Regions from separate parts of the Homo sapiens genome. Here regions 2, 3 and 4 are each reported to be linked to region 1. The links are microRNA targets in miRTarBase. Many come from high-throughput screens and were not tested one by one. Region 1 holds a microRNA gene; each other region holds the end of a gene's coding sequence.
The links. Region 1 holds the annotated microRNA hsa-miR-4438 (CACAGGCUUAGAAAAGACAGU, at 1,916-1,936, opposite strand). A microRNA usually pairs through its seed, bases 2 to 8, with sites in the 3' UTR of a target mRNA and lowers its output. Matches are read on the target gene's strand: a 7mer-m8 pairs with bases 2 to 8, a 7mer-A1 pairs with bases 2 to 7 and ends in A, and an 8mer does both.

Region 2: miRTarBase lists ZNF563 as a target of hsa-miR-4438. Seed matches in the 3' UTR shown: 7mer-A1 at 2,422-2,428 and 7mer-A1 at 1,779-1,785.
Region 3: miRTarBase lists RRP7A as a target of hsa-miR-4438. Seed matches in the 3' UTR shown: 7mer-A1 at 1,031-1,037 and 7mer-A1 at 858-864.
Region 4: the mRNA of TNFAIP8L1 is a reported target of hsa-miR-4438. Seed matches in the 3' UTR shown: 7mer-A1 at 1,170-1,176, 7mer-A1 at 1,304-1,310 and 7mer-A1 at 1,754-1,760.

Annotation. Positions count from the first base shown.
Region 1 is chr2:213,756,928-213,760,057 of GRCh38, reverse strand. MIR4438 (microRNA 4438) reads right to left here and starts at 1,991; the gene lies at 1,899-1,991. All of the region lies in intron 10 of SPAG16 (sperm associated antigen 16), which reads right to left.
Region 2 is chr19:12,315,845-12,318,974 of GRCh38, forward strand. ZNF563 (zinc finger protein 563) reads right to left here. Exons shown (of 4, transcript NM_145276.3): 4 at 1,633-3,130. The coding sequence ends at 2,750. Among named protein-coding and RNA genes, the nearest start is that of ZNF563, 16 kb to the right of the region's middle.
Region 3 is chr22:42,510,285-42,513,284 of GRCh38, forward strand. It overlaps RRP7A (ribosomal RNA processing 7 homolog A), which reads right to left. Exons shown (of 7, transcript NM_015703.5): 7 at 1-2,711. The coding sequence ends at 2,626. It also overlaps the pseudogene SERHL. Among named protein-coding and RNA genes, the nearest start is that of RRP7A, 8.0 kb to the right of the region's middle.
Region 4 is chr19:4,651,875-4,655,004 of GRCh38, forward strand. TNFAIP8L1 (TNF alpha induced protein 8 like 1) reads left to right here. Exons shown (of 2, transcript NM_152362.3): 2 at 1-3,130. The coding sequence ends at 556. Among named protein-coding and RNA genes, the nearest start is that of TNFAIP8L1, 14 kb to the left of the region's middle. RefSeq lists a silencer at 2,858-2,907.

The DNA.
Region 1 (3,130 bases):
AATTCTTTTTTTTTTCTTTTTTTGAGACAGAGTCTTGCTTTGTCACCCAGGATGGAGTGCCATGGCACAATCTTGGATCACTGCAGCCTCCGCCTCCTGGGTTCAAGTGATTCTCCTCCCTCAGCCTCATGAGTATCTGGGACTATAGGCATGTGCCACCACACCTAGCTATTTTTTGTATTTTTAGTAGAGACAGGGTTTCACCATGTTGGCCAGGATGGTTTCGATCTCCTGACTTCATGATCCACCCACCTCGGCCTCCCAAAGCGCAGGGATTGCAGGTGTGAGCCACTGCGCCCAGCCACTATTTGAATTCGTTATAGCTTATAGATGTTTCCCTACATTTCCTGCATTACTATCTTTTATATTTAGTTGTCTATTTTATTTTCTTTAGTGATTTGCTTAAATTTCTTTCTCATTTCCTTGTATATAGCTATTTTCTTGGTGGTTACCATAGGGATTATATTTTAGATCCTGCATATATAACATTCTAATTTAAATTTGTACCACCATAACTGCAATAATATATAAAAACTCGGCTCCTTCAAAAGCTCCATTCCCCCACCCTCTCAATTTTTGATGTCACAAAATTATATCTTTATGTATTATACAAAAATATAAACATGTAAGTATTTTAAATTCATTAGTCTCTTAAATTATGTACAAAACAAAATTGGAGTTACAAAGCATAATATGAACTTTTATACAAATTTAAATATATATATATTAACCTCTTAAAGCATGTAGAACACGAAAAGTGCAGTTAAAAAGTATTGTTACAATAATATAAGCTTTTATAATTTTCTATGTATTTTCCTTTATTAAGATCTTTATTTCTTTACACAACTTCAAGTTACTGTCTAGTGTCTTCTCATTTCACTCTGCAGGAGGATTTCTTGCAAGTCAGGTCCAATGGTAACAAGCTCTCCCAACTGTTGTTTTCCTGGGGATGTCTTAATTTCGCCCTCACTTTAAGGACAGTTTGGCTGGATATAAGATTCTTGTTTGATAATGTTTTCTGTTTTTGTTTTTCTTTAGCACTTCGAATGTCAGCCCACTGCCTTCTGGCCTGCAACGTTTCTGGTGAGAAATATACTGATAATCTTACTGATTATTCCTTATAAGTAATATATTGATGTTTTTCTGCTGCTTTTAAGATTCTATCTTTGTCTCCACCTTTTAAAGCTTTGATTATAATGTATTTCAGTTTATGTCTTTTTGAGTTCATCTTCCTTGAATTCTGTTGGATTTCTTGAATGTTTATATTAATGTCTTTTATCAGATTTGGAAAGGTTCTATCCGTTGTTTCTTCAAGTTTTCTCTTCTCTTTCTCCTCTCCTCCTGTGACTCCTTGATTGTGTCACACAGGTCCCTTAGACTCTGTTTACTTTTTTCAATTCTTTTTCCTTCTGTTCCTTGATTTCCATTGTCCTATCTTCAAGTTTACTGACTGTTTCCTTTGCTTGCTCAAATCTTCCTTTGAATCGCTCTAGTAAATTTTTTATTTAAGTTGTTGTACTTTTCAGCTCCCAATTTTTTTTAACTTCTTGTGAGGTTTCCTATCCATTGAATTTTTTTCATTTTGTTCATATATCATTTTCTTGACTTTCTCTATATCTTCCTGTAGTTCTTTGATCATTTAACACAATTATTTTAAAGTCCCTCTGTAGCAGATCCACCATCAAGTCATTTTAGGGATTTCATATTTTCCTTTGGACAAGACATAGTTTCTTAATTTTTTGTATGAATTGTGATTTTGGATCTAATAACATAGTAACTCTAAAAATTAGATTCTCCCTCTTACTGAGAGTTTGCGGTTACTTCAGTCAATGATTTTGCTTTTTATATTGTCATAAGAGGATTCTGTTGTAGGCTATCTCTGTGCCAAGAATCAGTCTGAAGTGTAAACTTAAAGACTGTCTTTTCTAAGCCTGTGCCAAAGGAAAGGCAAGGCACAGGCTTAGAAAAGACAGTCCTTAAGTTTACACTTAGTAACTTAGTCATTTTCTGATTGTCACCATATGTGCAGTTACTTTGAATGCCCTACTTTTTAATGTCTAGCTGTCAAAGGGGGAAAAACAGAAAAATAAAGTAGGAGAAGGGCACTGGCCCTTTTAATCTTCTGGAAGTCACTTCAGCCAGCAGGGAGGGGCTTGCAATAATGGATAGAGGTGCAACAATAACCACTCACCTCTTTGCGTCCATCTTTGTGACCAGAAACAGCAATCAGCAATCAGAGCAAAGATTGCCGATATTTGGATGACAGGTCCTTTTTTTGCCCACTCTGGTTCCTGCATGCTCTGTGCAGACTGCTCCAGTAACATGTGCACAGCTGCCTGCTACAGGGGTGACTGTGGGAAATGGGTAGCTACTACTGTGGTTAAGTGCTGAAATTGACTGAAATTAATCATAATTCGCCATGCAAGCTTTCCCCTAGAAGTTGCAAGCCTTTAGTAGATGTCAAAAATCCAAAATAGTTATATATCAGACAGATTCTGCCAGTACAATTGTTCTCTAGGTGGGAAGACAGATTCCTGGTGCTTCCTACTCCACCATATTTCTATAACTATTTCTCCATAATGTTTTAACTACTGTAATTTTGTAATATCCTTTGAAGTCAGGAAGTGCAGGACCTCCAGCTTGTTCTTTAGATTGTTTGGGCTCTTTTTGGTTCTCTGCGGTTGCATATGAATTTTAGAATTGCTTTTTCTATTTCAGAAAAAAAAAACAGCTATGGGTATTTTGATATGGATGGTATTTAACCTGTGGATAGCTTTAAGTAGTATGGACAACAATATTAAGTCATCTAATTCATGAATATATATGTCTATTTATTACCATCTTTATTTTCTTTAGAAATGTTTGTAGTTTTCAGAGAACAAGTCTTTAGTCTCCTGTTAAGTTTATATTTCTATGTATTTTTGATGCTATTTTAACCCAATTTTTAAAAATTTCCGTTTCAGATTTATGTTAGTATATGAAATCACAACTGATATTTGCATATTGATTTTGTGTCCTGCAACTTTGCTGAATACATTTATTAATTCTAGTAAGCTTTTTTATGTGGAATATTTAGGATTTTTTACATTCCATTTCTTTATTCCCTCTTTGCTCTATAAAGACAACACCA
Region 2 (3,130 bases), not on the chromosome of region 1:
AAAAATTAGCTGGGCATGGTGGTGCATGCCTGTATTCCCAGCTACTTGGGTGGCTGAGGCAGGAGGATCACTTGAACTTGGGAGGTGGAGGTTGCAGTGAGCTGAGATTGTAATCCCAGCTCCTCAGGTGGCTGATGCAGGAGGATCACTTGAACCTGGGAGGTGGAGGCTGCAGTGAGCTGAGATTGCACCACTGCACTTCAGCCTCAGCGACAGAGTGAGACTCTGTCTGAAAAAAAAAAAAAGAAGCAGTGCTATAGATTTTGATACTTGAAAAATCTGAAGGCTGGGTGTGGTGGCTCACCCTGTAATCCTAGTAATTTGGGAGGCCAAGGCAGGCAGATCTCTTGATTCCAGGAGTTCAAGACCAGCCTGGGAAACATGGTGAAACCTTGTCTCCACAAAAAACACAAAAAGTAGCCAGGCATCGTGATGTGTGCCTATAATCCCAGCTACTTGGGAGGCTGAGGTGGGAAGATCACTTGAGCCCAGGAAGTTGAGGCTGCAGTGAGCCATGCACTGTAGGGTGACAGAGTGAGATCTTGTCTTAAAAAAAAAAAAAAAGAAAAGAAAAAGAAAAAAAAAGAAAAATTGGAAGCAGTTTTAGGGCACCTACAGCTTCTACAAGGCGCAAGTGTTAAAGATTATCATCCTCAATTAAGATTCTTCCATGGAACAAAGCCTCCATGTCACCCCAGAGATTACATGCTCACAAACGTTGCAAAGTTTAAAAAAAAAAAAACTAGCTTCCTACAATGTTTCTAATTAAATATCTGCAAATATGAAGACAGCCTTCAATGCTTAAAGATCTTCAGTCCTCAAATTGAACAGATTCTGACATTAGTATTATTTAGACTGCTCCAAAAATTCAGTATCTGCAGTCAGAATCTGTTTCTTCCAATATAGTTGATCATGTTGACATCCTGTCAAGATTCGAGTTAGCCTGAGGTCTCACTGCTTATCTGTGGTGTCACACATCTAGCTGACTCAACACATCACAACATTAGGCACGATATTGCAATAATCATCATTACACTTTTGTTGGGTGAATGTTAACACATTTTCAGGTCATTAAACAAAAGCAATCTATGAGTGTTGAAAGAAAAGATTTATAATGCTCTAGGTGACATGTATTATGTGGGTGGGTCTGTACTGAATATGTGTAGGGTCTTTCTCATATCATGATTCACTAAACAATATAATAACAACTATTTACATAGCTTCTATGATGCATGATGTATTTTAACTAATCTACAGATGATTTAGAGTATACAGGAGGATGTGGGTAGGTTACATGCAAATATTTTTTATTGTTATTATTTTTTTGAGACAGGGTCTCATTCTGTTGCCCATGCTAGAATGCAGTGATGTGATTTTGACTCACCGCAACCTCAACCTCCCAGGCTCAAGCGATCCTCCCACCTCAGCTTCCCTAGTAGCTGGGACTACAGGTACATGTCACCACACCTGGCTAATTTGTGTATCTTCTGTAGAGACAGGGTTTTGCCACATTACCCAGGCTGGCCTCTAACTCCTGGGCTCAAGTGATCCACCTGTCTTGGGCTCCTAAGGTGCTAGGATTACAGAGGTGAGCAACTGTGTCTAACCCAAATATGTCTTTTCTTTCTTTCCTTTTTTTTTTTTTTTGTGTGTGTGACAGAGGTTGTTTTGCTCTTGCTGCCCAGGCTGGAGTGCAGTGGCGCGATCTTGGCTCACCGCAACCTCCGCCTCCCGGATTCAAGTGATTATCCTGCCTCAGCCTCCTGAGTAGCTGGGATTACAGGCATGTGCCATCACATCCGGGTAATTTTGTACCAAATATGTCATTTTTAAAAAAGGACTTGGCATGTGTCGATTTATGTATGCCCAGGGGGTGGTAGAACCACGCTCCTGCAAATATTAGGGGATAACTGTATTTGAAAGAAACTGAGGCTTAAAATTAAGGCTTTACTATGTGTTTACATTCATAGGGTTTATCTCCAATGAGAATTATTTCTATCTGAAATGAAATAACATTAAAGAATACTTCCCTACATTTCACACATTTATAGAGTATCTCTCCAGTGAGTCCTTTTATGTCTATGCAAGGACCTGAGAGAACTCAATGCTTTTCTACATTTCTTACATTCATATGACTTCTCTCCAGAGTGAATCCTTTCATGTACTTTTTTTTTTTTTTTGAGACAGGGTCTGGCTCTGTCGCCCAGGCTGGGGTGCAGTGCATCTTGGCTCACTGCAACCCCCACCCCTTGGGCTCAAGAGATCTTCCCACCTCAGCCTCCCAAGTAGCTGGGACTACAGGGGCATACCACCACACCTGCTACTTTTTCTATTTTTTGTAGAGACATGGTTTCACCATTTTGCCCAGGCAGGCCTCAAATTCCTGAGGTCAAGCAATTTGCCCACCCTAAGTGCTGGGATTACAGGCGTGAGCCACTGTGCCCAGCCTCATGTACTTTTAAGTTACCAAAATGACTGAAGGCTTCCCTACATATTTTACACTCACAGAGTTTTTCTGCTCTGTGAGTTGTTTTATGTTGACAATGGTGTTAAAAAAAAATCGATCACTTTCCCACATTCCTTATATCATACAGCATCTCTCCAGTGTGAGATATTTCATGATTTTGAAAGGAATAAAAATTATGAAAGGCTTTCCCACATTTACATTTATAGGGTTTCTGTCCAGTGTAAGTTTATTCATGATATCAAAGGGAACTGGAAATATAGAAGGCTTTATAATAGTTTACATTCATATTGTTTCTCTCCAGTGAGTCTTTTCATGTCTTTGACATACACTGGGATAAACAAAGGCTTTCCCACATACCTTGCATTTATTCGGCCCATCTCCCGTATGCATTACCATATGTCTTCGAAAGCTTGAGCTATGAGATAACGCTTTCCCACACTGCTTGCATTCATAGGGTTTCTCTCCACTGTGAGACTTTTCGTGTCTTTGACATACACTAGGATAAACAAAAGCTTTCCCACATATCTTGCATTTATGAGGTCCACCTCCAGTGTGCATTATCATGTGTCTTCGAAAGCTTGAGCTATGAGATAACGTTTTCCCACACTGCTTGCATTCATAGGGTTTCTCTCCAGTGTGAATTCGTTCATGATATCGAACTAA
Region 3 (3,000 bases), not on the chromosome of region 1:
GGATTGTGAAGACATAAATTCTCTCTCAGAGCAAGTGTGGGCTCCAGCGCCTGTTCAGATCCCAGCTCTGCTGTTCAGGGCTGACTGTGACCAAGTCCTGAACTCCCTGCGCCCCAGCAAGGCTGTGCCTTCAGCACTTGCTTGCGCCTGGCTTGTGCCAGCTGAGCGTGAGCTGAGATTAACTGAGCCTCAAATCCAACCCAGGGTCAAGGGACCCAGCTGTGGGAGTTGGGGTAGCCCAGGCTTTGGTTTCTCCTCAGAGGCCTGAACCCAGGGCAGGATGGGGGCACCGCTGGGAGGCGGTTCTAAGATGAACCCCAACAACCCCCAACTCCTCACTTTCCAGAGCAGTCCACGGATATTTTGATCCAAGAGAGAATTACTCTGACAAGGAGTCCCTGTCGTTCATGATAGACACAATGAAATCCACCCTCAAAGAGGTAAGGCGGGGCTCAGGCAGCTGGTGTCCAGCCACTGTCGCCCACTCTGGTCCCACCTCACCCATCTCTTCTCATGCACTGGGAAAGACCCCTGGTCTGCCCCCAGGCCCAACAAGTGACCACCAGGATCTATCAGGCCTCATGCTCCAGTGATCAGTCCCTAGAGGCCTGGGGACACATGTAATCAGAATTTAAGAAACAGAGACCTTTGGTGGGGAGGTTCTTTACCATCCTCAAGTACCCACCCCTCCTTCTTGGGGCCAGGCACAATTAGGTGACCCAACTGCCAGAGACAGTCCCACATTTTTTGAGAGACAGGGTCTCATTCTGTTGCTCAGGCTCAGTCATAGCTCACTGCAGCCTCAAACTCCTGGGCTCAAATGATCCTCCCACCTCAGCCACCTGAGTAGGTGGCACTACAGGCGCATGCCATCATGCCCAGCTAATAGTCACACTTTTTTTTTTTTTTTGAGATGGAGTCTCACTCTGTCGCTCAGGCTGGAGTGCAGTGGGAAGATCTCAGCTTACTGTAACCTCCACCTCCCGGGTTCAAGCGACTCTCGTGCCTCAGCCTCCTGAGTAGCTGGGATTACAGGCACCTGCCACCATGCCCAGCTAATTTTTATATTTTTAAGAGATGGGGGTTCACCATGTTGGCCAGGCTGGTCTCAAACTCCTGACCTCAGGCGATCCGCCCACCTTGGCCTCCCAAAGTGCTGGTTTTGCAGATGGGAGCCACCATGCCCAGCCTAGTCTCACTTTATAGGCTCCCAAACCACAGCAGAACACCTGGCTGCCTCATCCCTCTGCACCCATCACGCCAGTGGGCATGCTGGCTGTAGGTGGGGATGGCCTTTGCCCGGGTTCCTGGGAGCACCTGGTGTTTTATGGTCACCTACCCACTTACACCTGACCCTGGGGCCTCTGCAGTTTTCTTGGCGTTGTCACCACAAAAGGAAGAAGCCCACCTGTGGCTGGCTGGCTGGCCGCCAGGTCAGAGCCAAGGCAGGCAGGGCCTTCCTGTCTGGCTTCTTGAAGGCAGACACAAGTCTGCAGGCTGCTCACGTCATCTCATTATCTTTTCTCACGAGGACTACTTCGGATACAATCACAGCAACCCTGGCCTCGGCCCTGCCCTGTCCCTGCCATGCAACTTCACAACTCAGCTGGCCTAGACCCCTGGGAGGCCTCCAAGTCCCTAAGGTTAGACATCTCCTGGGGTGCTATGGACTGTCGGGGCTCCAAGGAGCCGAGTGTGGGGGAAACTCACTGTGGGAGGCGCTCCTGACCTGCAGGGAGCTGGAATGCTGTGGGAGGGCCCTGACCCCGGGGCCCATGGAGCTCCCTAGGCTCCTCTGGCCACATCTCACTACCCACCCCCTCCCCTCTCCAGCGGTTCCAGTTTGTGGAAGTCCCAGGCAATCACTGTGTCCACATGAGCGAACCCCAGCACGTGGCCAGTATCATCAGCTCCTTCTTACAGTGCACACACACGCTCCCAGCCCAGCTGTAGCTCTGGGCCTGGAACTATGAAGACCTAGTGCTCCCAGACTCAACACTGGGACTCTGAGTTCCTGAGCCCCACAACAAGGCCAGGGATGGTGGGGACAGGCCTCACTAGTCTTGAGGCCCAGCCTAGGATGGTAGTCAGGGGAAGGAGCGAGATTCCAACTTCAACATCTGTGACCTCAAGGGGGAGACAGAGTCTGGGTTCCAGGGCTGCTGTCTCCTGGCTAATAATCTCCAGCCAGCTGGAGGAAGGAAGGGCGGGCTGGGCCCACCTAGCCTTTCCCTGCTGCCCAACTGGATGGAAAATAAAAGGTTCTTGTATTCTCACTGCTTTTGAGGCTTTTTCGTTGCCAGCAAGGGCTTTTGCATTGAGGGAAAAGGAAGCACAGAACGGATTCATCCAGGGTCCTGGAGAGGAGGGTGTGGAGGCAAGAAGCAGGAAGGACAAGTCCTCCTCTCGGCACGCCTGGGTCCCCAGGACTGCTGAAGCACAAGACCCGAGGGGTGGCCTGGTCCTTCCCTCCTGGCCTGTGTGGACTCTGATGGGGCTGTTGGACGCGGTGGCCTTCAACCTGGGGCCCGTTGGCCAGAGCTCGGCCTCTCAGAGACCGCTGCAGGCCCTGCCTCGCCTCCTCCTGGCCCTGCACCTCCAGCCATTCACTGCGGCTCTCACAGCTCAGTACGGTCGGAATTTGCGCTGGGCCCGCAGCAGCTCGATCCTCTGCTTGTCCTCCTCGAACTTCTTGCGCAGCTGCGCTAGATCTGGGGGTGAGAGGAGGCGCGGGGCAGGGTCAGACAGCGCGCCCCGGGGAAGCTGGCTTGCTCATGCCCCACCCCTCCTCCCAGTTACTGTGGGGGTGGGGCTATGTCTCCCCCACCAGCCCATCCCCCTCCCAGCTCTGCTGTGGGGGCAGGGTCTGGATCTTGTCAGGAAACAGAACCGACGGCAGGCCGAGTCCAAGGGCAAGGCCAAAGTGGGAGATGCTGGCACCCCCAGCCTGGAGATGAAGCCCTAGCGACAAAGCAAAGGTACCCGCCCCCACCCCCATCC
Region 4 (3,130 bases), not on the chromosome of region 1:
CACCTTCAGCACCAAGAGCCTGGCTCTGCAGGCGCAGAAGAAGCTCCTGAGTAAGATGGCGTCCAAGGCAGTGGTGGCCGTGCTGGTGGATGACACCAGCAGTGAGGTGCTGGATGAGCTGTACCGCGCCACCAGGGAGTTCACGCGCAGCCGCAAGGAGGCCCAGAAGATGCTCAAGAACCTGGTCAAGGTGGCCCTGAAGCTGGGACTGCTGCTGCGTGGGGACCAGCTGGGCGGTGAGGAGCTGGCGCTGCTGCGGCGCTTCCGCCACCGGGCGCGCTGCCTGGCCATGACGGCCGTCAGCTTCCACCAGGTGGACTTCACCTTCGACCGGCGCGTGCTGGCCGCCGGGCTGCTCGAGTGCCGCGACCTGCTGCACCAGGCCGTGGGTCCCCACCTGACCGCCAAGTCCCACGGCCGCATCAACCACGTGTTCGGCCACCTAGCCGACTGCGACTTCCTGGCTGCGCTCTACGGCCCCGCCGAGCCCTACCGCTCCCACCTGCGCAGGATCTGCGAGGGCCTGGGCCGGATGCTGGACGAGGGCAGCCTCTGAACCCCGGCGCCGCCCAACCGCGCCCCTCGCGCCTTTTGGGGCTCTCCTGCTGGGCGCGGGTGGGGTTTGTGGGTTTTTTTCCACCTCTTTTCTCCCAATCGGACTCCGGCCAAACTCCCCTAGACAGATGGGTGACCTGTCTCCTTTGAGAGGATGCTGAGGCATCTGTAGCAGCTGTTTCAAACACCAATGTCACCTCTCCTCCTGGCCCCCGCCCAATGGGGAGAGGAATTTGGGGCCCTACTCTGGGGACCACCTTTCACCCGTTTGTACTTTCTGGGCCACGCCGACCCCTGGGTCGCTTGATGTAAAAGCCAAAAGCTGCTGCCTCCCACTTGGATCATGTCGCCTGGGATTTTCATCCCTCGCACAAGGACTACGGGTTCACACGGTGAACTGGGGGAAGGGAAGTGTTAGGGGGCAAGTCGCGGCACCCCCCCTTCCATAAACTCACGTCCTAACCCCCAGGACCTCAGAAGATGATCTGATTTGGAAATAGGATCATTACAGATGGAATTAGTTCAGATGATCTCATCTTGGAGTAGGGTGGGCCCCAATTCAAGGACTGGGGTCCTTAAAAAAAGGGGGCCTGGGGCAGGGCGCGGTGGCTCACGCCTGTAATCCCAGCACTTTGAGAGGCTGAGGCGGGCGGATCACGAGGTCAGGAGATCGAGACCATCCTGGCTAACACGGTGAAACCCCATCTCTACTGAAAATACAAAAAATTAGCTGGGCATGGTGGCACATGCCTGTAGTCCCAGCTACTCGGGAGGCTGAGGCAGGATAATCACTTGAACCAGGAGGAGGAGGTTGCAGTGAGCCGAGATTGTGCCACTGCACTCCAGCCTGGGTGACAGAGCAAGACTCTGTCTCAAAAAAAGAAGCGGGGGAGTGGGGGATTGAGGCCACGTGCAGTGGCTCACTACTCTAATTCCAGCACTTTGGGAGGCCGAGGCAGGAAGATTGCTTGAACTCAGAAGTTCAAGACCAGTCTGGGCAACATGGTGAGACCCTCGTCTCTACAAAAAAAAAATTATCGTGGTGGGCCGGGCGTGGTGGCTCACACCTGTAATCCCAGCACTTTGGGAGGCTGAGGCGGGCAGATCACAAGGTCAAGAGATCGAGACCATCCTGGCCAACATGGTGAAACCCCGTCTCTACTAAAAATACAAAAATTAGCCGGGCATGGTGTTGCGTGCCTGTAGTCCCAGCTACTTGGGAGGCTGAGGCAGGAGAATCGCTTGAACCTGGGAGGCGCAGGTTGCAGGGAGGCGGAGGTTGCAGTGAGCCGAGATTGCACCACTGCACTTCAGCCTGGTGACAGAGCGAGACTCGTCTCAAAAAAAAAAAAAAAAAAAAAAAAAAAAGTGACTGTGGTGGTGCACACGTATAATCCCAGCTACTTGAGAGATGACGAGGGAAGATCACTTGAGCCCAGGAGTTAAGAGGCTGCAGTGACCGATGATCATGCCACTGCACTCCAGCTTGGGTGAGAGTGGGACTCTGTCTTAGAAAGAAAAAAAAAAGTATTTGGACACAGACATGCATGCAAGGAAGGCCAATGATGCCGGCCACCACCAGGAGCTGGGAGAGGCCCAGGGCAGATCCCCTTCAGCCTTGGAGGGACCTAGCCCTGGCCACACCTTCATCTCAGACTTGCGGCCCAGAGAACTGAATGAGAATAAATGTGCGTGAAGCCCCTCAGTCCACAGGATGTGGTACTGGAAGCCCCCACTCAAGAAGGCTCCAGTGAATGCTGGCACGTTCAGCCAGGATGCCTCCGTGAAGCTGGAGACCTCTGCCCTGGGTCGGGAGGGGAAACTGCTCCAATCCAGGGACTGCCACATGGGAGGGGACGGAGCGTGCCCACCTCCCAGGGGTGAGGGGGGACCCACCTGAGATGTGTGCACATTTTATTTATTTATTGTTTTGAGACAAAGTCTCGCTGTGTCACCCAGGCTGGAGTGCAGTGGTGAAATCTCGGCTCATTGCAGCCCCTTCCTTCCAGGCTCAAGTGATCCTCCCACCTCAGCCCCGGGTAGCTGGGACTACAGGTGTGCACGAGCACACCCGGCTAATCTTTGTATTTTTTGTAGACAGAAGGTCTCACCATGTTGCCCAGGATGGTCTCGAACTCCTGGGCTCAAGCGACCTACCTACCTCGGCCTCACAAAGTGTGCACATTGTAATATCGTGATTTCATATTTGGAGAATCAGCAACCAACCAGCCAACCATGTTGCTTTTATAAGACAGAGCTGAGAAAGCAAAGCTTGGCTGTCGTCTTGGCTCTGGTACCACCCACGAGATGCGGGCGATTCTCAGCTCAGGGCGTGGAGGCGTGGTGTGGGGGAGTCTATTTGCCATTTTTGTTTGTCAGCAGGGGGCAGGGGTTCTCAAAGATTGCAAAATGCTGCTGCAGGTCAGGAAGGTTATTTTGGGTGCCTGTGGGGGAGGTGAAACAAGGTCCCATGACTGTTTTGCAGAACCTTGTCTGTGGAGGGTAGAGGTTGCGGCAGGGGCCTGTGGGCCTTACTTGGTGAGAAGGTAGGTCTAGCTGGCTCCATTCAGTATTT